Linked DNA regions of Homo sapiens. The protein of the gene in region 6 interacts with the protein of the main gene of each other region in a pairwise test. Each region holds a gene or a part of one and is shown on either strand. Other genes may lie near its edges. The genes, in order: TMEM161A, SLC2A6, ATP9A, CD82, GOLGA8A and CHRM5.

What was found.
Region 1: the proteins of CHRM5 (region 6) and TMEM161A interact in a two-hybrid assay, tested with the Homo sapiens proteins (one large-scale study listed by BioGRID and IntAct).
Region 2: the proteins of CHRM5 (region 6) and SLC2A6 interact in a two-hybrid assay, tested with the Homo sapiens proteins (one large-scale study listed by BioGRID and IntAct).
Region 3: the proteins of CHRM5 (region 6) and ATP9A interact in a two-hybrid assay, tested with the Homo sapiens proteins (one large-scale study listed by BioGRID and IntAct).
Region 4: the proteins of CHRM5 (region 6) and CD82 interact in a two-hybrid assay, tested with the Homo sapiens proteins (one large-scale study listed by BioGRID and IntAct).
Region 5: the proteins of CHRM5 (region 6) and GOLGA8A interact in a two-hybrid assay, tested with the Homo sapiens proteins (one large-scale study listed by BioGRID and IntAct).

Annotation. Positions count from the first base shown.
Region 1 is NC_000019.10:19,121,479-19,124,978, reverse strand, and holds part of TMEM161A (transmembrane protein 161A isoform 1 precursor), read left to right. Parts: intron 1-3,159; coding exon 3,160-3,220; intron 3,221-3,310; coding exon 3,311-3,454; intron 3,455-3,500. UniProt on the Homo sapiens protein: May play a role in protection against oxidative stress. Overexpression leads to reduced levels of oxidant-induced DNA damage and apoptosis.
Region 2 is NC_000009.12:133,470,594-133,473,346, forward strand, and holds the end of SLC2A6 (solute carrier family 2, facilitated glucose transporter member 6), read right to left. Parts: intron 2,658-2,753; coding exon 2,512-2,657; intron 1,584-2,511; coding exon 1,428-1,583; 3' UTR 501-1,427; downstream 1-500. UniProt on the Homo sapiens protein: Probable sugar transporter that acts as a regulator of glycolysis in macrophages. Does not transport glucose.
Region 3 is NC_000020.11:51,618,391-51,621,890, forward strand, and holds part of ATP9A (probable phospholipid-transporting ATPase IIA), read right to left. Parts: intron 654-3,500; coding exon 564-653; intron 417-563; coding exon 272-416; intron 1-271. UniProt on the Homo sapiens protein: Plays a role in regulating membrane trafficking of cargo proteins, namely endosome to plasma membrane recycling, probably acting through RAB5 and RAB11 activation. Also involved in endosome to trans-Golgi network retrograde transport.
Region 4 is NC_000011.10:44,607,163-44,610,662, forward strand, and holds part of CD82 (CD82 antigen), read left to right. Parts: intron 1-3,500. UniProt on the Homo sapiens protein: Structural component of specialized membrane microdomains known as tetraspanin-enriched microdomains (TERMs), which act as platforms for receptor clustering and signaling.
Region 5 is NC_000015.10:34,435,009-34,439,155, reverse strand, and holds the start of GOLGA8A (golgin subfamily A member 8A), read left to right. Parts: upstream 1-1,347; 5' UTR 1,348-1,758; intron 1,759-3,684; 5' UTR 3,685-3,773; intron 3,774-4,147. UniProt on the Homo sapiens protein: May be involved in maintaining Golgi structure.
Region 6 is NC_000015.10:33,971,497-33,974,996, forward strand, and holds part of CHRM5 (muscarinic acetylcholine receptor M5), read left to right. Parts: intron 1-3,500. UniProt on the Homo sapiens protein: The muscarinic acetylcholine receptor mediates various cellular responses, including inhibition of adenylate cyclase, breakdown of phosphoinositides and modulation of potassium channels through the action of G proteins.

The DNA.
Region 1 (3,500 bases), on a different chromosome or scaffold from region 6:
TTTTTTGTTTTTGTTTTTGTTTTGAGATGGAGTTTTGCTCTTGTCACCCAGGCTGGAGTGCAACTGTGCAATCTCAGCTCACTACAACCTCTGCCTCCTGGGTTCAAGCAATTCTTCTGCCTCAGCCTCCTGAGTAGCTGGGATTACAGGTGCACGCCACCACGCCTGGCTAATTTTTGTATTTTTAGTAGAGACGGGGTTTTACCATGTTGGCCAGGCTGGTCTCAAACTCCTAACCTCAGGTGATCCACCCACCTCGGCCTCTCAAAGTGCTGGGATTACAGGTGTGAGCCATCACACCTGGCAGTTTACCCAAGTTTTGACTGATATTTTTTATTATTCTGTTTGGGGTGTTTTAACATTTCCCTTCTGATTTCTGTAGAGATGGGGTCTTGCTATGCTTTGACCTATGGATTATTAAATATTTTTAAATTTTTCAAACATAGATCTTTAAAAAATACATATTTATTTCTAGCTCAATTGCACAGATGGTCTATTTGAAATAATTTCTTTAAAATTTGGTAAGATTTGCCCTATGGCCTGGAATGTGATCACATTTTGTGACTATTCCTTGTTTTCTTGAAGGACATATTCTGTTTTTGTTGTTTTGCCTTTTTTCACATGTTCTAATTGAAGGACATATTCCCTGGCTCTATGAGTTTAATAAATTCAAATCTCCATCTTGCCTAACCTTTTGTCTGTGACTTATCAGTCAGCAGAAGTTAATCTCCCTCTGGGACAAGAGAGCTCTCAATTTCCCTATCAATTCTGTCAGTGTTTTCTTTATATATTTTGCAGCCTATTCACAATTCACAGATTAGTTCTATTCACAGATTTAGAACTGTTACATTTTCCTGGTGAATCAGCCATTTTATCATGATGTATGGAACCCTTCTGTCTTCTAATACTACTTTTTTTTTTTTTGAGACAGAGTTTTGCTCTCGTTGGCCAGGCTGGAGTGCAGTGGCGCAATCTCGGCTCACTGCAACCTCCACCTCCTGGGTTCAAGCGATTCTCCTGCCTCAGCCTCCCAAGTAGCTGGTATTACCCGCCACCATGCCCAGCTATTTTTTGGATTTTTAGTAGAGCCAGGGTTTCACCATGTTGGCCAGGCTCGTCTCGAACTCCTGACTTTGTGATCTGCCCGTCTTGGCCTCCCAAAGTGCTGAGATTACAGGTGTGAGCCACCGCGCCTGGCCTATTCTAATACTACTTCTTAGTCTAGTTTGGCTGGTAGTAGTATAGCCTTTCTAGCTTGCTTTCTTTTGATTAGTATTTGCTGTATCTTTTTAACATCCCTTTACTTTCAGTCTTCCAGTGACTTTATGTCAAGGTATGTCATCCTTTAAAAAACATGTAGCTGGATATTTTCAATGTAGTCTGACAGTCTTTGTCATTTAACTTTAAAGTTTAGTCTACTTACATTTATTGTGATTACTGACATATTTGACTTTGTTTCTACCATCTTACTTTTTTGCTTTCTATTTGTTCCTTTTCTGTTGTTGCAGTTGACATTGGCTGTCAGCCTAATTGTTGTTCCTTTGTAGGTGATCTGTCTTAACTCCCTGGCTGCTTTGTAATTTTTTTGTTTTTGGTGTTCTGCAGTTTCACTCCATTATGTCTAGGTATGGATTTCTTTTTATTTACATGGTTTGATATACTTTGTGTCTGTCTTTCATTCTGCAAACTTCTCAACCATTCTCTTCCAGTAATTCCTTTTATTCTTCATTCCTTCTCTTCCCTCCCTCTGGGGCTCTGATTTGATTTGCGTTGGGCTCTCTGTTCTGTCTTCCTTATCTCTTAGCCTCTCTTCATATTTCTCACCTACTTGTTTTTCTGAGTTGGAATCTGAGTGATTTCTTCAGATCTGTCTTCCAGTTCATCACTTCCTCCTTTGGCTGTTCCTAATGTGCTGTTTAACAACCTATTATTTCAATACTTACAGTTTTCCTTTGGAAGAGTTTAATTTGGTTCCTTTGCAACTCTACCCAGTCATCTGAAGGAATTCTCATGTCACTTGTTCTGTGATTACAGCTTTCATTTCCTTAGTCATTTGACACATAATTGACAGCACCAATTTCTGAAGTCTTTGAGGCCTAAACTTGACTGTTGTTTTTCTGTTAACTCTCCTTTATGGTGATTTGTTTCCTTATGCATTTGGTGATTTTGCCTGTGAGCTCATATGAATTTGCTCCTTTTTTTTTTTTTTTTTGACAAGGTCTTGCTCTGTGCTGGAGTGCAGTGGCATGATCTCAGCTCACTGCAACTTCCACATCCTGGGCTCAACCCATCCTTCCCACCTCAGCCTTCACAGTAGCTGGGACTATAGGCGTGCACCACCACCCCTGGTTTTGTATTTTTTGTAGAGATGGGGGTTTTGCCATGTTGCCCAGGCTGGTCTCAAACTTGTGAGCTCAAACGATCCACCCGCCTTGGCCTCCCAAAGTGCTGAGACTTACAGGTGCAAGCCACTGCACCCAGCCCTGCTCTTAATTTTTGAAAAATCTTGGGTCCTGAATTGAGGATTCCTTCCTCCAGGAGGACTTTGGTTTTCTCCTGCAGGAGTCCTTCATCCCCCTCTAGATTCCTTCTATAACCTAGGGAGCTCAGGCTCAACAGATACCCCTGAATGTTCCCAGCCCAATCAGGAGTGTCTGCCTGGTGCATTCTGTTTCGTTTTCTTTGAGACTGAGTTTCACTCTTGTCCCCAAGGCTGGAGTGCAATGGTGCGGTCTCAGCTCACTGCAACCTCCGCTCCCCATGTTCAAGCGATTCTCCTGCCTCAGCCTCTCAAGTAGCTGGGATTACAGGCACCTGCCACCACACCTGGCTAATTTTTGTATTTTTAGTAGAGACGGGGGTTTCACTGCATTGGCCAGGCTGGTCTGAAACTCCTGATCTCAGATGATCCGCCTGCCTCAGCCTCCCAAAGTGCTGGGATTACAGGCGTGAACCACCACTCCAATCTTGTTTCTTGTAAAAAGTACTGTGTAACTAGAGCACAAAATTGTCCTTGTGCCTGGCTCAGGGCCTGGCAGACCCTTGTTCATTCCTACTTGGGAAGCAAACGGATGCCTGAGGGATGGGGGGTTAGGGAACAGAGTGGCCTTAGAGACCCTAGGAATTCACTCTACTCGGTCCTCTTCTTATCGTCCCCAGGTCTGGCCAGCATGACCCAGAACTTAGAGCCACTTCTGAAGAAGCAGGGCTGGGACTGGGCGTGAGTCCTGGGAATGGGGGAGGGAGGCAAGGGCAGGCTGGGACCCTCCCAGGGTCCCCCAGGCAGGCTCGTGACCTGGTGTTCTCCTAGGCTTCCTGTGGCCAAGCTGGCTATCCGCGTGGGACTGGCAGTGGTGGGCTCTGTGCTGGGTGCCTTCCTCACCTTCCCAGGCCTGCGGCTGGCCCAGACCCACCGGGACGCACTGACCATGTCGGAGGACAGACCCATGCTGCAGTTAAGTGGGTCGCTTGGTGGGTGGGGGGACTAGGGAGCTTAAGGG
Region 2 (2,753 bases), on a different chromosome or scaffold from region 6:
TCGCCCAGGGGGCGTGCTGTCCAGCAGGGGCCCTGCCTTGCAAGGAACGTCTCTTCCGGCGGCTGGGCCGCTCCTGCCTGGTCTGGGCTGTGTGTGGCGCCCTTTCCTCCTTGTTTGTTCCTCTGTGTTCTGTGTGCGTCTTAAGCAATAAAGCGTGGCCGTGGCTCGCGTGCCTGCCCTCTGCTCCCTTCTGCCTTGGTGCCTGTGTGTGAGTGTGGAAGCCAGGCAGGAGCCGCTGGCCCAGGAAATAACTACAGGTCCTGTCCCGAGGCTGCCCCCAGCATCCCAGACAAGGAAAGTGACCTGCCCAAGGTCACACAGCTAGAAAGAGCCTGTTAAGGGTGGGCCTCGCAGTGGGCTTCCCCTCACTGCAGCCTTTTCCCTGCCCTGCTTTTGCTATGGATCAGCAGTCAGTGGCCCTGGCAACCTTGGCTGGTTCGGGTCTAGCCTGGCTGCTGTGGGGGCTCCTGGAGTAGACCCCACTCTTTCCTCGCTAGGACTACAGGTCCAGTTCCTTTATTTTTACAAAAGGGTGAACACAGTTTGCAGATAGGAGCTGCCTGTTCCCAGAGGTTGGGCTGGGGCAGGAGGAAGTGGCCACGCCAGGTCCTTTGCCCTGGCTTTTTTTTTTTTTTTTTTGGCAGGGGGTGGGGACGGAGTTTCACTCTCGTTGCCCAGGCTGGAGTGCAATGGCATGATCTCAGCTCATTGCAGCCTCCACCTCCCGGGTTCAAGCAATGCTGCCTCAGCCTCCCAAGTAGCTGGAACTACGGGTGTGTGCCACCACACCCAGCTTTTTTGTATTTTTTAGTAGAGACGGGGTTTCACCATGTTGGCCAGGCTGGTCTTGAACTCCTGGCCTTGGGTAATCCACCTGCTTTGGCCTCCCAAAGTGCTGGGATTACAGGCGTGAGCCACTGTGCCCGGCCTGCCCTGGCTTTTTAAGTCCAGGATGTTCCCTGTGGTGCCCATAAGACTTGTGAGGGCAAAGCCGGGTCTTCCTTGCACAGCCAGATGCCACCAGATCAGAGCGCGATGATATGACTACGTTACTTGGCTGCCTCCAGCCCTGTCCTCTCAGTCCTCCCCGTAGCCTTCTGTGGGGCGTGTCCTTCACGCAAGGGAAAGGGACTAGGCCTGAGGTCACCCAGCAGGGCCGTGTCCCTGGATGCAGGGTTGTATGCACTCCTGCGGCCCATGGCTACGTGCAGCACTGTGGGCTGCCTGGGCTGGGGCTGTGGCTGGACAGCAGTGCTACCTGTCCCGAGCCAGGGGCACCCGCTGCTGAGGCCCCATCACACTGCTCTTCCTGTGCTCTGGCTGGTGGCAGGGATGACTGCTGCCTCTTGGTCCCAGGGTGCAGGTTTGTAGCCAACACAGAGGCCCAGCCACTGGGGGTTTGGCCCCCTCCAGGCGGGGACCTTGACCTAGCGCAAGAAGGACCTTCTCCCCGTGCGGAAGAAGGACTCGATCTGCTCCAGGGACCGTCCCTTGGTCTCGGGCACACAGCAGCCTGTGAACACCAGGCTCACCAAGCAGATGGCCGCGAAGAAGAAGAAAGGCACCTGGAGGCCGAAGGTGCTCTGCGGGTGAAGAGCGGGGCCGGGTCACAGGGAGAAGCTCCAGGGTCCTCCTGCCCCAGAGGAGCTCGTGGGCGCTGCTGGTAGTGACCAGCCCTGTGGGGCCTTCATCTGGTCCTTCCTGTGTTCAGAGACCGCCCCCCCACACCAGGGCTCCCCCACTGTCCCCAGGACAAATCCGAAGTAGCCCTTGAAGTCTGCATCCCGTCTGCCCCTCGGCCTTCCTCAGGGGCTGGGCCCTCTGGCGTCAGCTCAGGTACCCCCTCCACACCCCCTACCCAGCGCTGGCATCCCAGCTGTTCCATGCCGCGGCCTGCAGGAGGCCCGCCCTGCAGCCTGGTGGGCACGCAGGTTCTTCTTGGACCCTCTAGGCTGATGGACTCACTCTGGGTTGCCTGCCCTCCCCCAACCCCCCTGCCCTGACCACTGCAGGGACAGCTTAGGCGCTGGCCTAGGCTGCCCTAGCCAGCTTCTCCCTCATGGGAACTTACTCTGGGCCTCACAGATTCTGGCTGGTCACAGGGCCCGTAGTTTTGAACCAGGAGGCAGGGGGAGTGGGTGGGGTTGAGGGGGGAGTGTGGCTGCTGCTGAGACCCAGCGCCCAGGAGGGCGGGAGATGAGGCACGGTGGGGAGGTGGCTTCCGGGGCCCCTGGCAGGGTCCTGGGCCATGTCCTGCCCTGGCCCAGGAGGTAACCTGACTTCCCAGAACAGTTGCCTACGCCCGTTCCTGTTTCTTATAATGAAGAGCGTTTGCTAGGCTATCACGTGACCACTCTGGGGTCTCTGAGTTCAGGGGGTGTGTGCTCATCTCCTAGGGTCACTGAGAGTTAGGGTCCTGACAGCAGGCCTTGGCACAGCCCCTGGCACTGAGAAGGGTCCTGGCCAGTCAGAGAGGGCCTAGGGGCCTGGGGCCTGGGGCTGAACACTCACCACCACTGGCAGGAAGGACTTGGTGAGGACGAAGGCGGTGAGCCAGCTGGCCAGCACGCAGAGCCCTGAGGCCACGCCACGGGCACGCAGGGGCAGGACCTCAGACATGAGCAGCCAGGTGATGGGACCCCAGCCCACGGCGTAGCCTGCTCGGAGGAGGAGGCAGGTTCAGGCCCTGTGGGGTGACTGGAGGCGGCTGTGTCTGTCTCCGCTGAGCTGCTGGAGACCCCCCTCTCCAGCCA
Region 3 (3,500 bases), on a different chromosome or scaffold from region 6:
ACAGTGTGTGGTCTCCACCCCCTGGAAGGCTGCACTCTTGAGCCACTGGCAAAGGAGTAGAGGCCTGGCACGTGCTTATCTACTCTCCAAGGGAAATATTAAAAATAATAACAAAAAGAGCCAAAGTCTGAGAGGTGGAGAAAAATCATGACCTGAACAAAGGGGCCTGGGGAATTTGAAGAAAGAGCAGCAGTGTCCAAATATCCTTAGGGAAAGGGAGCCTGGTGCACCGGCAGGCCAGGGCCAGCAGCACAGCCTGAGCCTCGCCTACCTACTGCACAGGTGAGCTTGCCCGTGCGCTCCTGAAGCAGGCGCACGATCTGGGCCTTCTGGGTGGGGGCACATCGGCAGCAGACTACGGCCGGGCACTGGCAGGCCAGCTCCATGAACTCGTACTCATAGTACTTGAGGCAAACCTGCAGGGTGGAGGGAGAGGTGGTGCGTTGGTGGAGGGAGAGGTGGTGCGTTGGTGGAGGTCGCTGCCGAGCCTGCAGTGCCCCTGCCGAAGCCGGGTAAGACCCAGGCTGCTGGGAGGACTGGCTCTCAGGGGTCCCCAAGCTCACCTCCAGGGAGTCTCCCGAGATGACCAGGGCACAATCATGCTTCCTGCGGAAGGCGTTCAGCTCGAGGTGAGCCTCCCCGCGGTTGGTCACCTGGAAGGGAACAGAGATGGGGAAGGAGGCATTGCTCTCCGGACATGATAGAACAACAAACAGTGGCTTCCAGGAGCCCACATGAAGACAACGGCCACCCCAGCCAAGGGTCCCTCCCCTCCCCTGCCACCAGAGGCAGCACCAAATGGAATCCTATTGGTTGACTCTGCAGGAATCAAGAGAGCCCATGTGCCAACCACCACCTACAATTTCCCCCAGGACTAAAAATGCCTGTACTGGCCAAGCGCAGTGGCTCATGCCTGTAATCCCAGCACTTTGGGAGGCTGAGGCGGGCAGATCACTTGAAGTCAGGAGTTTGAGACCAGCCTTGCCAACATGGTGAAACCCACTCTCTACTAAAAATAGAAAATTAGCTGGGCATGGTGGTGGGTGCCTGTAATTCTAGCTACTTGGGAGGCTGAGGCAGGAGAATCACTTGAACCCAGGAGGCAGAGGCTGCAGTGAGCCGAGATCATGCCACTGCACTGGCAGTATGGGCAACAGAGCAAGACTCGTCTTTTAAAAAAAAAAAAGGGGGGGGGGGGCCAGGTACGGTGGCTCACACCTGTAATCTCAGCACCTTGGGAGGCTGAGGTGGGCGGATCACCTGAGGTCAGGAGTTCAAGACCAGCCTGACCCACATGGAGAAACCCCATCTCTACTAAAAATACAAAATTAGCCGGGCTTGGTGGCACATGCCTATAATCCCAGCTACTTGGGAAGGCTGAGGCAGGAGAATCGCTTGAACCTGGGAGGTGGAGGTTGCGGTGAGCCGAGATCATGCCATTGCACTCCAGCCTGGGCAACAAGAGCAAAACTCTGTCTCAAAAAAAAAAAAAAAAAAAGCCTGTACTTTCATTTTCGGCCAGGTGTTGGATGATGCATTCGGTGGATTTTTCTCATTTATTTCTCACAACGGCTCTATGAGGTGCCAAAAAGAAGAAGCTCTATTTTGCACCTAAGGAAACTGAAGCATGGTGACATCTGCTAACCTGACTAAAGGCACATGGCTAGTATGCTGTAGCCCAGGTATGCAGAGCCAGGCACCTAGCAGGGACTGGGCCACTTTTCTGTAAAGGACCAGATGTTAACTATTGTAGGCTTTGAGGACCACATGGTCTCCATCACAACCACTCAGCTCTGCCGTTGTAATCCAAAAGCAGTCGTACACCATATGCAAACGAGCCGGTCTGTCTACACTCCAATAAAACAAAATACCTGCTGTTTAGAAAAACAGGTGGCTAGCACATAGGTCATTAGTTTGCAATCCCTGAATTCTAGAACAGACAGTCAATTCTCATTATTCATAGTAGCTATGTTTTCTAAAGTCACTGTGAACACTGAATTAGCAAATACTAAACCATCACCTGTAGGGGAAATACAGGGTTAGGTTTTTGCCCCTGGTTGCAATATCTTCATAAATATATAACCTTATTTTATGTGCGTTTCTACTTAAAGACACCTGGATTCATTAACATTGAGCTCACAGCCACCAGTTCTGTAACTCATGCCTGCAGGAAGCTCATCTAACACACGCATTCGCTCCATAAGTCACATCAACAGCCTTCCTGTTGATGTGACTTATGGATGTTGGGAAGTTCAAGTTCCAGAAAACAAGCCAGCAAAGAAGCGCTGTGTGCGGCCATTTTAAACGACAAACTGCCAACAAAAAGCATAAAAATGCAAAAAACCGGATACTCGATGGACTGCAAAAACGACACTGGTTCGTCACACGGGGCTGAAAGGAGGGGGGAGTGCGTGAGCTTGTTCAGCCTCAGGTGGGAATGTGTGTCTCAGGCAGCTAAAATTTTAAGCCACTCTAGGCCAGGCGCGGTGGCTCACGCCTGTAATCCCAGCACTTTGGGAGGCTGAAGTGGGAGAATCACCTGAGGTCAGGGGTTCGAGACCAGCCTGGCCAAAATGGTGAAACCCGTCTCTACTAAAAACACAAAAATTAGCCAGGTGTGGTGGCAGGCGCCTGTAATCCCAGCTACTTGGGAGGCTGAGGCAGAAGAATTGCTTGAACCCAGGAGGCGGAGGTTGCAGTGAGCCAAGATTGCACCACTGCACCCCAGCCTGGGTGATAAGAGCAAGGCCCCATCTCAAAAAAAAAAAAAAAAGGAGAGATTTAAGCCACTCTACGTATGACAGTGAAAATATCAAGAGTACTGATTTGGAGGTCACAGATAAATTTTGGGAGGAGGAGAATTCACAAAGAATCTGTGAATGATGAGAACTGACTGTACCTGCCTCTATACAATACTATGCTATTTCAAAAATCCCTGGATTTTTTGAAGCTTCTGTGTGCTATGGACCAAAGGCGGGGTGAGGGCGAGACCCCCAAACATCTAGAGACCCTCCAGTGGTTTGCCATCGTGGCTCTGGTTTCAGATCAGTGGGATTACTATATCCTGCCCCAAAGAGGACCCGGTCCCCCTACCTCCCCAATGCAATAAAGCCTAGCACAGTCCTCACTGGCAGCAGTTCCTGATGTGCACATTGTCTTGGTCAATGTCTGCCACAAGGGCGGGCGATTTCTCATTTGCCCATCCAGTTCACCTCCTTCAAAAGGCTCCTCAATGGTCCTAAATGCTTCCCCTCTCAGGAGGGCAGATGGACCAGTATCTGTGGCCTGGAATTTCTTTCTTATCCAAGGACTTGACTTTCAGGGGTTCCGTGAAATCCCAGGAATCCCATGCATAATTTCATGTGTATGAGTGGATCTGCATCTTTCGGGGGGAGTGCCTGACTTTCATCAGCTTCTCAAAGGGACCACGACCCCCAAAAGGTTAAGAGCATGGCATTAGCACAGGGCTAGAAGGAGGTACTCCCAAACCACTACTGGAA
Region 4 (3,500 bases), on a different chromosome or scaffold from region 6:
AACTGAGAAAACACTATACCAACATCAACATCAACAAATAACATTTAATAGAACTTAGAACTTAATGGAACTTCACAAGACAAGATACTCTTGGTAGCTAAGGGCTAACTTGGGCACTGAGCTTCCTGGCAGTCAAGGCAAAAGTGGAAAATAGTGGATTTTGTAGATGAAAAGCAGCTTGTTTGGCTGTGAGACAGGAAGCCAGCAGTTAAGGGAGGGAAATTCCTTTCCCAGAAAAATGGTCATGGGGTCAGGTCTTCATTTCTGTCCTATGGCACTGAGCTTCTTTAGGACCTAGTTAGTGATATAATCAGGGTGGATTAGAACCAGGCCCCAGTGAGCCGGTTTCTATGACTCAGAAGCTGGTCGCCTCTGCAGGGATCTTGGGCAGTCCACCCTATGTGATTCACCATCTCACAGTAATAAATATGGCCCACCAGGTTGGCACCAACCACATGCCAGGAGCTGAGCTAGAAAAGTGAGCTGCAATACATGTTCAAATTTACAAACATTTTCCATTTGAAGAAACTGAGGCCCAGGAAAGCAAAGTGACTTTCAGCCACTGACACACACAGCTTGGATGCATCAGAGTGGGGATTTCCATCCTGATGCCTTGGAGTCCAAGGCCCATGCCTCCCTATCCACCACGCTGCCCTCCCGCCGGCTGGGTAACTCTGCTTGGCTGATAATGAGGAGCTTAGCCTCAGAGGTGTCCTATCAGCCCCAGAACAGGACTTGTTTGGAGATTTGGGTTTCTCGACCCCAGCCAAGCTCTGTGCATTGCACCCCCTGCCCCTGTCTTCCCCTTCAGAGTCCACACCCCCTAGTCCCAGCCTGCCTCACCTTAGTCCACCACCATCTTTTCTGGAAGGCAGGGGGAAATTTTCTGGCTTTGCTGAAGAAGTTCTGGTGCCACTGTATCGCCCGAATTGGAATGAACAATATATTTTTTTCTTTCGCAACGCATCATAAATCTCAGTGGAAGACTAAACATACTCTTGATGTGTTTATTCTGGCAGACAAGGCTCAGCGTGGGGGTGGGACTTGTTTGAACCTAAGGAAAAGAAAGGCCTTTTGAAAGGAGATAGGGCTCCCGTGCAGGTGGGTGGGAGTGACCCTGCTGTGGTCTCCAGGGCTGCCCTCTGTCCTTCCTGCCTCTGTCACCCGCAGCCACTCTTCTCAGGGCAGCGATGGGGAGGTTGGGGACCTTGGCATGGCCTGTCACCTCTGGAGCCTTGGGTTCTGCTTCTATAAATTGAGAATAAATCTGCCTCTCCCTGCTCTACCACTCAGGTTGAAGTGAACACAGACTGTGACACTTCTGTGAAAATGCAGAATGGTGTCCAAGGGTCTTGACTGTGGAACCACTGCTCTGACATTCTGGGCATGCTACTCAGCCTCCCTGTGCCTCAGTTTCCACATTTGTCAAACTAGTAACAATATAGGCCCACTGTCCCTTCTCTGCAATTCTGAAATCCAAAGAAACACTTTAAAAACCAAAAGTAGCATTTGCAACTAATTTGGTGGCAAAATTGAACCTGAACAGAAGCAAGGCTATGTATGGCCTTTGCCTGCCCCATTCGGGTGTCCCTAGGGAAATAGAAATGAGACTCACTGCAGGCTGCTGCCCCAGCCCCCACTAGTGGGTGTGATCTGTCCCTCCAGGCCCTTTCTAAAATCTGATCCTGTCTCGAGCCGGAGCCCCCAGGGGCTGCCTTGCAGCACTTCAGAGATGAAGAGCACTAACAAACGGGAAGGGCGTCGTGCGGCACTCAGCCGGAGGCTGATGTTGCTGGCATCATTGCCAGTGTTTATTATTATTGCCGCCATTATTCACTTCATGAAGGCCTGGTAAGGGCTCAATAGGTGGCAGCTGTTCCTGCTGCCCTCGTTGTCAGCAGAGCAAGGGCTGCGGGAATGGGGATCTGGGCACGGTGCTAAGATCCTCATCTGCTTGTTTATCCAGCCTCTGGTGAGCAGAGCCCAGCCCTGGGATTCAGGGGCCCTGTGTTTTAGTGTGGGCTCTGCCGCTGATTGCTGTGTGGCTTCGGATAAGTTACCCAGACTCTCTGATCCACAGGCGAGCTCTTGGGCCATGCCCAGTGCAGGCAGTCAGGGATTCTGACTTGTTCTCTCTAGAGAGTGGAGGTGGGAGGAGTGAGAAGGAAGTGAATGCAGTTTGCCCTTTCCTGTGGTGTGTGGGTGCTGAGCTGGGTGCACTTGGCAGGCCATACCTGTGCCAGGGAGGCCCCTGAGGCTCTGAGTGCTGTCACGCTCAAGCAGAAGACATTGGAGGGGAAGGGGCTCACTTGGCCTGGCTGGGAGCCAGAGGTGGGGGCTGTGACAGTGGCAGTGGCTGGCCAGACAACTCCCCAGAGATGTTGGTCAGGGGAACTGTGACTTCCTTCTTGTCCTCCTTGCTCTCACCCTGAAAGCCCCAAATTGTTGGTGCGCACATACCCTCATGTGTGAGACACAGGTGGCGAGACGGGTTCCTAGGGGACAGTGTGGTTCTCTGTGAACTGTCTGCTTGCTGAATTAGAACTTCCTGATTCTCTGGCTTGGGGTTCTCTTGCGATGGGGCAGAGGGAGGAAGAGCAGCTGGAGCCTGGGACAGGGAGAGGTGACCTTTCTCTCCCCTGTTGAGAAGGGAATGGAGGAGTCCAGGCTACCCCTCTGGAAAGGGATTATGGAAAGACACTTGGGCTAGAATCTCTGAAGCACACGCTGGTCACTGGCTCTGCATTCTGGGGTAGCTAATTACGTGGATTGCAGCTGGACTTGCAGAAAAGATGCAGGAAGCGCCCTCATTTCCTATCAGGGTACTGGGATGCAGCCTCTGAGCTGGTGTATCTGTATTCTAGCAAAGCATTTGCCAACATCTCATGTGGGAAACCTGGAGAGGACAGGAAGATGTGGGTCCAATTCATGCATTTATACCTTATTATAAGGGGCTATTTCACACCTTAAAGAGCATGGCAAGAGGTCTGCACAGCACCCCAAGGGGCGGGCACAGGAGCCCGAAAAGTTACCCTGGAGATGTAGTCTAGTCTCAAGTATCTGGATGACATGTGTCCTTCGAGAGAGGGATTTGATTTGTTCCTGTGGTCCTAGCTGGGACTTGGGTAGCTGAGAGAGGAGGAGGATGTGAACTAATACAAGTGGGTAGAAGTCATTTGAGCAGAACTTAAATTGTATCAGAGCCTCTCAACTCCGCAACATGCTATTGTGTGAGGTACTGACTTCCCCATCGCAGGGAGCATTTAAGCAGAGCCTAAAAAAGCATGACTCTTACATTTGGATGATTTGCTGGACGCAAAGGTCTCTCCTAACTCTGACTCTGTGAAAATTCACACTAAAAGAGAAGTCAAAGCTCAGCATTTGGGTGGGACGTGAGTAGAGCCATGCAGAGGACAGCAGGGTCATGGGGAGGCCCTGGGCAGCTTGCCGAGGCTAAGATCCCGGGTCCCTGGAGCTGCACAGATCAAGGTCTGGTCATG
Region 5 (4,147 bases), 460 kb from region 6:
ACAAAATTTATTTACATGTAGCCTCATGTTAATTTTAATTTTCTCTTGAAAGCACTGAATAAACTATGTGTTGTGTACCTGTGCTTTGGCTATGATACATTGCATGAGGTCAGGTGTAGAATTTTGTACTTGAGGCATCATATGGGCACCCAAAAAATTTCGAATTTGGGAGAGTTTTGGATTTCAGATTAAGGATGCTCATCCTTTGCCGGAATTCTACAGAAACTCAACCATACTTTTATTACTACCTTGGTGCAAAAGCAATTGCAATTTTTGGCAATGGCGAATACTGTAATTGTTTTTGTACTAACCTAATAACTACGGTTTTTATTATCCTCCTCCTTTGACATACAGAGAATATATTATTCTTCTGATATCATCTTCCATATGGCCCAAATATTTAGGAATTTCACATGATCATTTTTCTCAAAGCAAATGCATTTGTGGCCAAATTTTACAGTTATTACATAGCTAGCATGTTAACCTTGATATTATGTCACGTTTCAAATTTTGTTCCCTCTGATTTTAAACTGAATTGAGAAAAAAATAAACTTGGCTCTCTAGAAACGCAAAGAGTAAATGAGAAGTAATATGATATCGCACACTTAAAATATTTTAAAGCAGGCTTCTACTGTTACTGTTATTTTTTAGCACAAACCAAAAGTGACCATTTTCTTTGAATAAATAATAAAATTTTATATTTTAATAACATTGGCAAGCATTTTCTCATTTAAATATCTCAATTTTTAATGGAAAGTATTTCGTTTTATATAAGAGAAAAATATAAAAGGATCATGTGAGTTTATGAAAACGTCACAGATAGTGTATGATATGTTTTATGTTTATGTTTCATACTCCAAACCCAGTGGCTTTTGTGTTCAAAAACGACATTTGATTAGCAAGAGGAAATGGCCATTTTACTATTACTTATCTGGAATGGTAGCATATTCCAGATAAGTAAAGGAGAATCAGCCCCATCTTTAATACTGCCAACTGGATTTGTGTCATAAAGAGAAATTAGGGGACTAAAAAGGAAACATATAAGCCTTGTCTTTCCAGATTGGAGATGGATAAGTATATAAGGACTGACATACTATTGCTTTACAACAGTTTTCCCAGGACAAATTGAGACACCAGAAGCCAGCATATAGGTTGTGACTGATCTATTCAAATTGTTCCTAATAATGGCATCAGGGTTTTTTAAAAAAAAATTTTGTCATGCTTTAAGTTCTGGGATACACGTGCAAAACGTGCACGTTTGTCACCTAGGTATGCAGCTCAGTGCGCGTGCGCCATGTGGCGCGGCCCTGCGGGCTTTCCGTACTCCGCTCGCGGTAGGCTCCCGCCGCTATTCAGCTGTCGGGCTAATCAGCAGTCGAGGTGTGCGGCTAGGCGCGAGCTCTGCGGGAGCTCAGCCCCCGGGAGAGACCCGGCAGCGGCGCGGCGAGGACGGCGGCGCGGCGAGGACGGCGGCGCGGCGAGGACGGCGGCGCGGCGAGGACGGCGGCGCGGCGAGGACGGCGGCGCGGCGAGGACGGCGGCGCGGCGAGGACGGCGGCGCGGCGAGGACGGCGGCGCGGCGAGGACGGCGGCGCGGCGAGGACGGCGGCGCGGCGAGGACGGCGGCGCGGCGAGGACGGCGGCGCGGCGAGGACGGCGGCGCGGCGAGGACGGCGGCGCGGCGAGGACGGCGGCGCGGCGAGGACGGCGGCGCGGCGAGGACGGCGGCGGACCGGGGCAGCCCCGCGCCCTGGCCAGGTAAGCTGGGGAACCTCGGCTGCCTGACTCGCTGGCGGCGGCAGCCTTGGGCCGCCCGCGGCGCCGCGGGGACCCGGACGCGTGGGGGGCGGCGCGTAAGCTGCGGGCCAAGAGCTCCCGAGCGCTGCCCCCCGGACTCGGCGGGGCTGCGGGGAGGCCGCCGCTGGGATCTAGGGGTGCAGCCCGGCGGCCTTACGCCTCTCGGACCGGCCCATCCTCCTCCCACGATGGGCGGGCGGGTGCGGCGGGGACTAGGCGATGGCTTTCGCATCCCGGGAGGGGCTCACCGCGGCGAGGGGCCACTCTCGGCGCCGGCAAGTGGCGCTGTCTGGCGGGGCCGCCCGCTCGCGTCTCGCCGGGCTGGTCGGGCCGCTGGTGCGTTCCGCTGCCCGGCTTGGCGCCGGCATCAAGTCCCCGTGCCGGGCGGCAACTACTGAGTTTGGGATCGCCTCTGGGTTCACTTCCCTGGGAGAACTCGAGCCCGGATCTTCGCCCCTTCCCTTTCCCTGTATAATAAGGCCCAGAGGGAAAAACTCAAAAACCCCACACCTTGTTGCCCCTGGGCTGCAGGCGCCGGGTTGGGGGCACGGTGCGGACCTGCGCCTCTGCAGGGCCCCTTCTCCACGCCAGGCACTGCCTGGCAAGGCTGCTGGAGGGAGATCTGGCCGCAGATGGTGAAGGAGAACATCGAGGCCCCCGGTCCCCAAGCAGGGCTCCATGGGTCGGGCGGCGGGCCTTGGTAAGCCCAGGCTAGGGGCGAACTTCCTTTTCTCCGGGCCGACGCGGAGGGAGGGTGCGGGGAACGCCCGCGGAGGGGCCTGTCCTGCAGCACCCCAGTGGAGAGCAGAGCCTTAGAGGGGCCTGCTAGTCTTAACTTAGTATTTACTGGCAGAAGAAAGGCTTACTTTTTCAGATCTCTTCAGATAACGACCTGGCAGGCACCAGACGTAAATCTGTGGTTGAGTGCAGTCAGCTCCTAAACAGGCATGCGGTGGAGGAAGCGCCCCAAACTTGGCATCTTGTGTCTGGCACTTTGTTTTTGGGCTAAACTGCCTCTGGCGTCTTCAGCCTTCTGTGCCTCTTTGTTTTTGTTTGTTTTTCTATTTTCCTTCCTGTTTCAGAAAGGACAGTGGTTTTAGAAGTAATGACCTGAGAGCTTTGCAGGTTGAAGTGGGACAAGTTTTCCTAAGGTGCAGGTTGGCAGGTGCCAGGAGCCTGCCGGTGGCTTTTTCTCAGGCCTCTGGGTCAGGGTCCCTCCAGTGAGGTGAGGCAGGGGTTTCTCCCCTCCCAGAGGTGTGGCCACTACGCAGGGGGACAGGAACTGGGTTTCCCAGTCCGGGGAGTCCAGGATGCCCTGCACTCTGCGCTGATTCCTGGGTGACCGTGGGGGCTGCCTTCCCCCACAGCCTGGGCTGGAGAGGGTCTCCTGAGCTTAGGATCCGCGGGGCAGGAGGGCTGGGGTGACAAGGACACGTGGAACCTGCTGGGGCTCCGGGCAGTGTCCAGGGCGTGAGTAGATAAAGCTGGAGCTCGTAGCTGTGTGCTGGCAGCCCTCGGTGGGCTCTAGCAGTACTGGCAGGGGGGCCCTTGGAGTGGGCTCCCTCTCTGGGCTGGGACTGGGTGATGGCAGTAGCAATGGGGCACGAAGTCTTCCCTCTCATTTGTTAGGAAGTGTGGTCTGTGCTCCTCCCCACTGTCTGGCTCTTGGGCTGGGAGAAGCTGCAGGCTGAGTCCCACGGGGTGTGAGTGTGTGTGAGCAGGAGTGGGTGCTGGAAGGAGGTAAAGCTGGTGACCATCAGCTCCTCATTCTCTTGCACCTTGCATGTTTTCTCTGACACCGCAGACCCAAGTTGTGGCTTGCTGGTTAACTTGTTTACATAACCTTCTTAAGTAACTCTAAACTTTAAAAAAAAAAATGTTTTACAGGAATAATCGGTGGAGATGGATTGTGAAATGGAGGTGCATAAATATCCAGTTTGCCAACCGAGCTAAGAAATGCTGGATAAAAGTAAAAGGTAATTGTAAAAGACACTGATCACACCCCTGGAAGCTTAGAGATGGGATAAGACACTTTGATTTTTCCTAGACAAAACTGAGGAAGTCAGAGGAAAAACAGTTGATGGTGAGATTGGCATCAGGCTGGGCTTTGTTTGGATTGGGCCGCGGTGGCTGCAGTGAGGGCTGTTGGAGTGGGGAGAGTGGGGGTTGAGCCTGGCTGCAGAGGCCCCCTCCAGGCCTCAGCTCCTCTCCGGCACTCCTCCGTGTCCTCTGCCATGCATACCTGCCCCGGTGACTTAATAGGTGAGGGCCTCAGGTGACACCGTCGTCTGAAGTCTTGGAGAAACCTTTACTGTCCAGGGGAGGAGAGGACTGGCGGTCGGTGGGGATC
Region 6 (3,500 bases):
ACATCCATTTCGTGTATGTTGACATAACAATCTTAAAAAGTAATTTTTGTCTGAAATACCAAGCAACATAATTTTGTATATAAAATTAGAAACATACCTAAAATTCATTTTTCTGTGTTAGCATTCAACTTAAAGGGACATTGCATAATATTTTTAAATGCATTAAATATATATTTACTTATATCTTCATTATTATAACTTTAAGTTTTCATAAGGAATTTTTTTCATTCCATTATAATGGCACCGTGTTTCAAGCTTAATTCAACTGGGCATTTCAACTAGCCAATATATTTGTTCCTTATTATGGTTAATTTTCCTTATGAAGTGACCAAATTTGAATAAGGATGTAGTTCACCATGAAGATCATCTCCTCTCCAGCTTCTTCCTGCTGAGAGAGAACAATCTTTGGTTTGTGACATCACAATCTGTGACTGGGAAGTGGCTCTGATATCAAACAGATGATTATATGCTTTCAGTGTGAACTAGCTAAAAGAGAGATGTAAGCACTATTATTTCAAGTCATATCACCAAGACACTAAAGAGATGCATGACAGGAACTGAATTAGAGAAAGATGCTTTTATTGCATTTGTCACTTTTTCAGCATCAACTATTAAAGATAAAAGTACCATCTCACAGTTTTCTCATTAATAATTCAAAAGCGGGAGTAAACATCATGTTGGTTAAATTCACAGACCATGATAAAACGGGAGTAAGGAAAATACCAGTAAGCAAGCAGACAGTCATGAAAGAGGCCCCTAGAGAACTGAGAAATAGATGCAAAATTTCACCTTGGTTCAAGCAGAAATACTGATGCTACTCAGAAAATTGAAAAATTACCAAAACACCCAAAATGAGAAAGACGGTGTCTCTGAATGAGAAAGAGATCCCTAAATATAGATTATAAAGTGATCCCATGACATAGATTAATTAGTATCTGACACATGGACTAGTATGAGGGCAGGGAGGGGGCTGGTTAACACCTTTCTAAAACAGCATGGATTTGTTAAAAAACAAAAACAACAACAGAAAACAAAAACAAAAACAAAAACAAAAAAACAAAGGACTGTCTTGAATTAGCAAAACTTCTGTGTTCTCTGAAAGTCTTCAACAAATATTTGTAAAAAATAAATAAAAATAAATCAGGAGTTAGGGTTCAATTAAGGAAACAAAAATGAAAGCTCCTTTTACAAACACATAGGCATATACAGACCTCTTTTTGTAATCTTTGTTTGCAACAGTAGCCAAAAGACAAAGCAGACCAACTAATCCTTCCACACTGAACACATGTGCAGTCTGTCCTTTGATTAGTGGCAATACCCTGATTCAGAGTATCAGTCATTTGTGACTGACCCTCCTAGACTCAGAGCCTATACAAAGATGATGTGTAAAAAATACAGTTAACTACTCCACGCATAATTACAAGTCAAGCTGAAGTCTCATTATCTACAGTTACACAGATTGCTTGATCCAGTGGTGTGTAGAGAATTCTTAAAGCATTTATTCAGTCCTATGTACTGGTTCATTACAACCAATGGGTTATTCAGCAGTTGTTTAAAGATCTGACATTCTCCATTTTTTGTATTGAAATTATTAGTGAAATAACTCAAGAATCTGGACCAATCAGAAAACATTACCACTTTTATAGACATTGTTTGACGTCACACTGTTGTCATCATCAGACTACGTGGGCCTTCTTATTTCCTGATTATCACTATAGAAATGTAGCACTGAATAATGTGTTCTTTAAGAAGCAAAAGCCAGAGATGATTTCCAGTTCAGTTATCAACTAAAAATCCTTAGCTATTTATAGAATTTTTTGGTACAGTAACCTAGAAAGCTGTTGGTGTAAATCTATCAGGCTCAGTATATAACATAGTACAACTCTTAATATTTCATCAACTGTATACCTTCCCTTCATTTGTGTTGCAAAGACAGTCCTCTACATGCAGTAACTTCTGGGTAACTTCTGGTAATACCTACAGAAGAGCTTCTCATGCCTAGGAACTTCCCCAACACTTTGAGGATACTTCTTTCATAACACCTTGTTAGATTCCATTGAAAACCTATTTATGGCCAAGCGCAACCTGTAATCCCAGCACTCTGGGAGGCCAAAGCTGGAGGATCGCTTGAGGCCAGGAGTTCGAGACCCACCTAGGCAACACAGCAAGACTCCATCTCTATAAAAAAATCTAAAAGTTAAAAAAATAAGAAAATCTATTTATATAGTTGTCTGACATACGAAATTGCATTTTTCATGGTTGAGGGCCTTAAGAGTAAAGACCACATCTAATTTATCTGTCTATTCCCAAGGTAAGCTCAGGACTAGTTAATCAGCAGATGTGTTAAATGAATGTGAAAATGTATCTTAATGCATTCTCAGGTACAATCTCAGACAGCCAGAAGAATAGTGATCCTAAAATATACCTCAGCTGCATTTCACTGATAATAGGCAAGTAGGTAACTGCAGAAAAGTCTAATGAAGGAGTCTTTTAAAGTAGTTTATACTGAAATAATAGCTATAAGGAGATAATATCTGTTAGGGATAGTATATGATATTATGAGGTATGCAAATACAGGATAGCAAATTTATCCCTTATGCTTTTGCTCTATTTGACATATGGAAATCACGTTTGCTATACTACTAGATCTAGAATTTCATCGATAATCCAAAAGGATCTAAATTGGTCTTGCTATTAAAAAGTGACTTCAGGGGAATTTGAATAAGTACTTTGCAAATGAAATTGAAGAGATACTACAGTCATCTTTCTATTCAAAGATGAGTGGAGAAAGTGACACACTTAAAATCTTACATTTATTCTGTTGGATGCTCTACCTGCCCCCTCTCCCTCTTTCACTCTCTGTGAGGAATGAATCTTTGCAAGTTACCTATGTTATATCTCCCCAAGTCATCTCTTCTCCTTATGCCAACATACAATATACCAACAATGGTGATTTCTTTAAAAGCAGGGACAAAGGCTAAAAGACTATGCTGTGCCTCAACCCCTATGATAGAAATTAAAGTAGCAGAGTGTTGAAGTAGGCCAGCATCACTCTAGAATTCATCAACATGTGTGTTGGGGTGGGGGCAGCTATAGTCTGAAGATGCTCAGGGTACATGAATAATGCATGTGTACGTCCTCACAGAAATCTGTGATTTGATGTTGGCGTGCACAACTTAAGATTTTGAGCTTTGGGCCGGGCACAGTGGCTCACGCCTGTAATCCCAGCACTTTGGGAGGCCGAGGCAGGTGGATCACCTGAGGTCAGGGGTTTGAGACCAGCCTGGCCAACATGTTGAAACCCCGTTTCTAATAAAAATACAAAAATTAGCCGGGTGTGGTGGTGCATGCCTGTAATCCCCGCTACTTGGAGGCTGGGGCCGGAGAATCGCTTGAACCCAGGAGGTGGAGCTTGCAGTGAGCCAAGATTGCACCATTACGCTCCAGCCTGAGCAACAAGGGCGAAACTCTATCCTGAAGGAAAAAAAGAACAACAGATT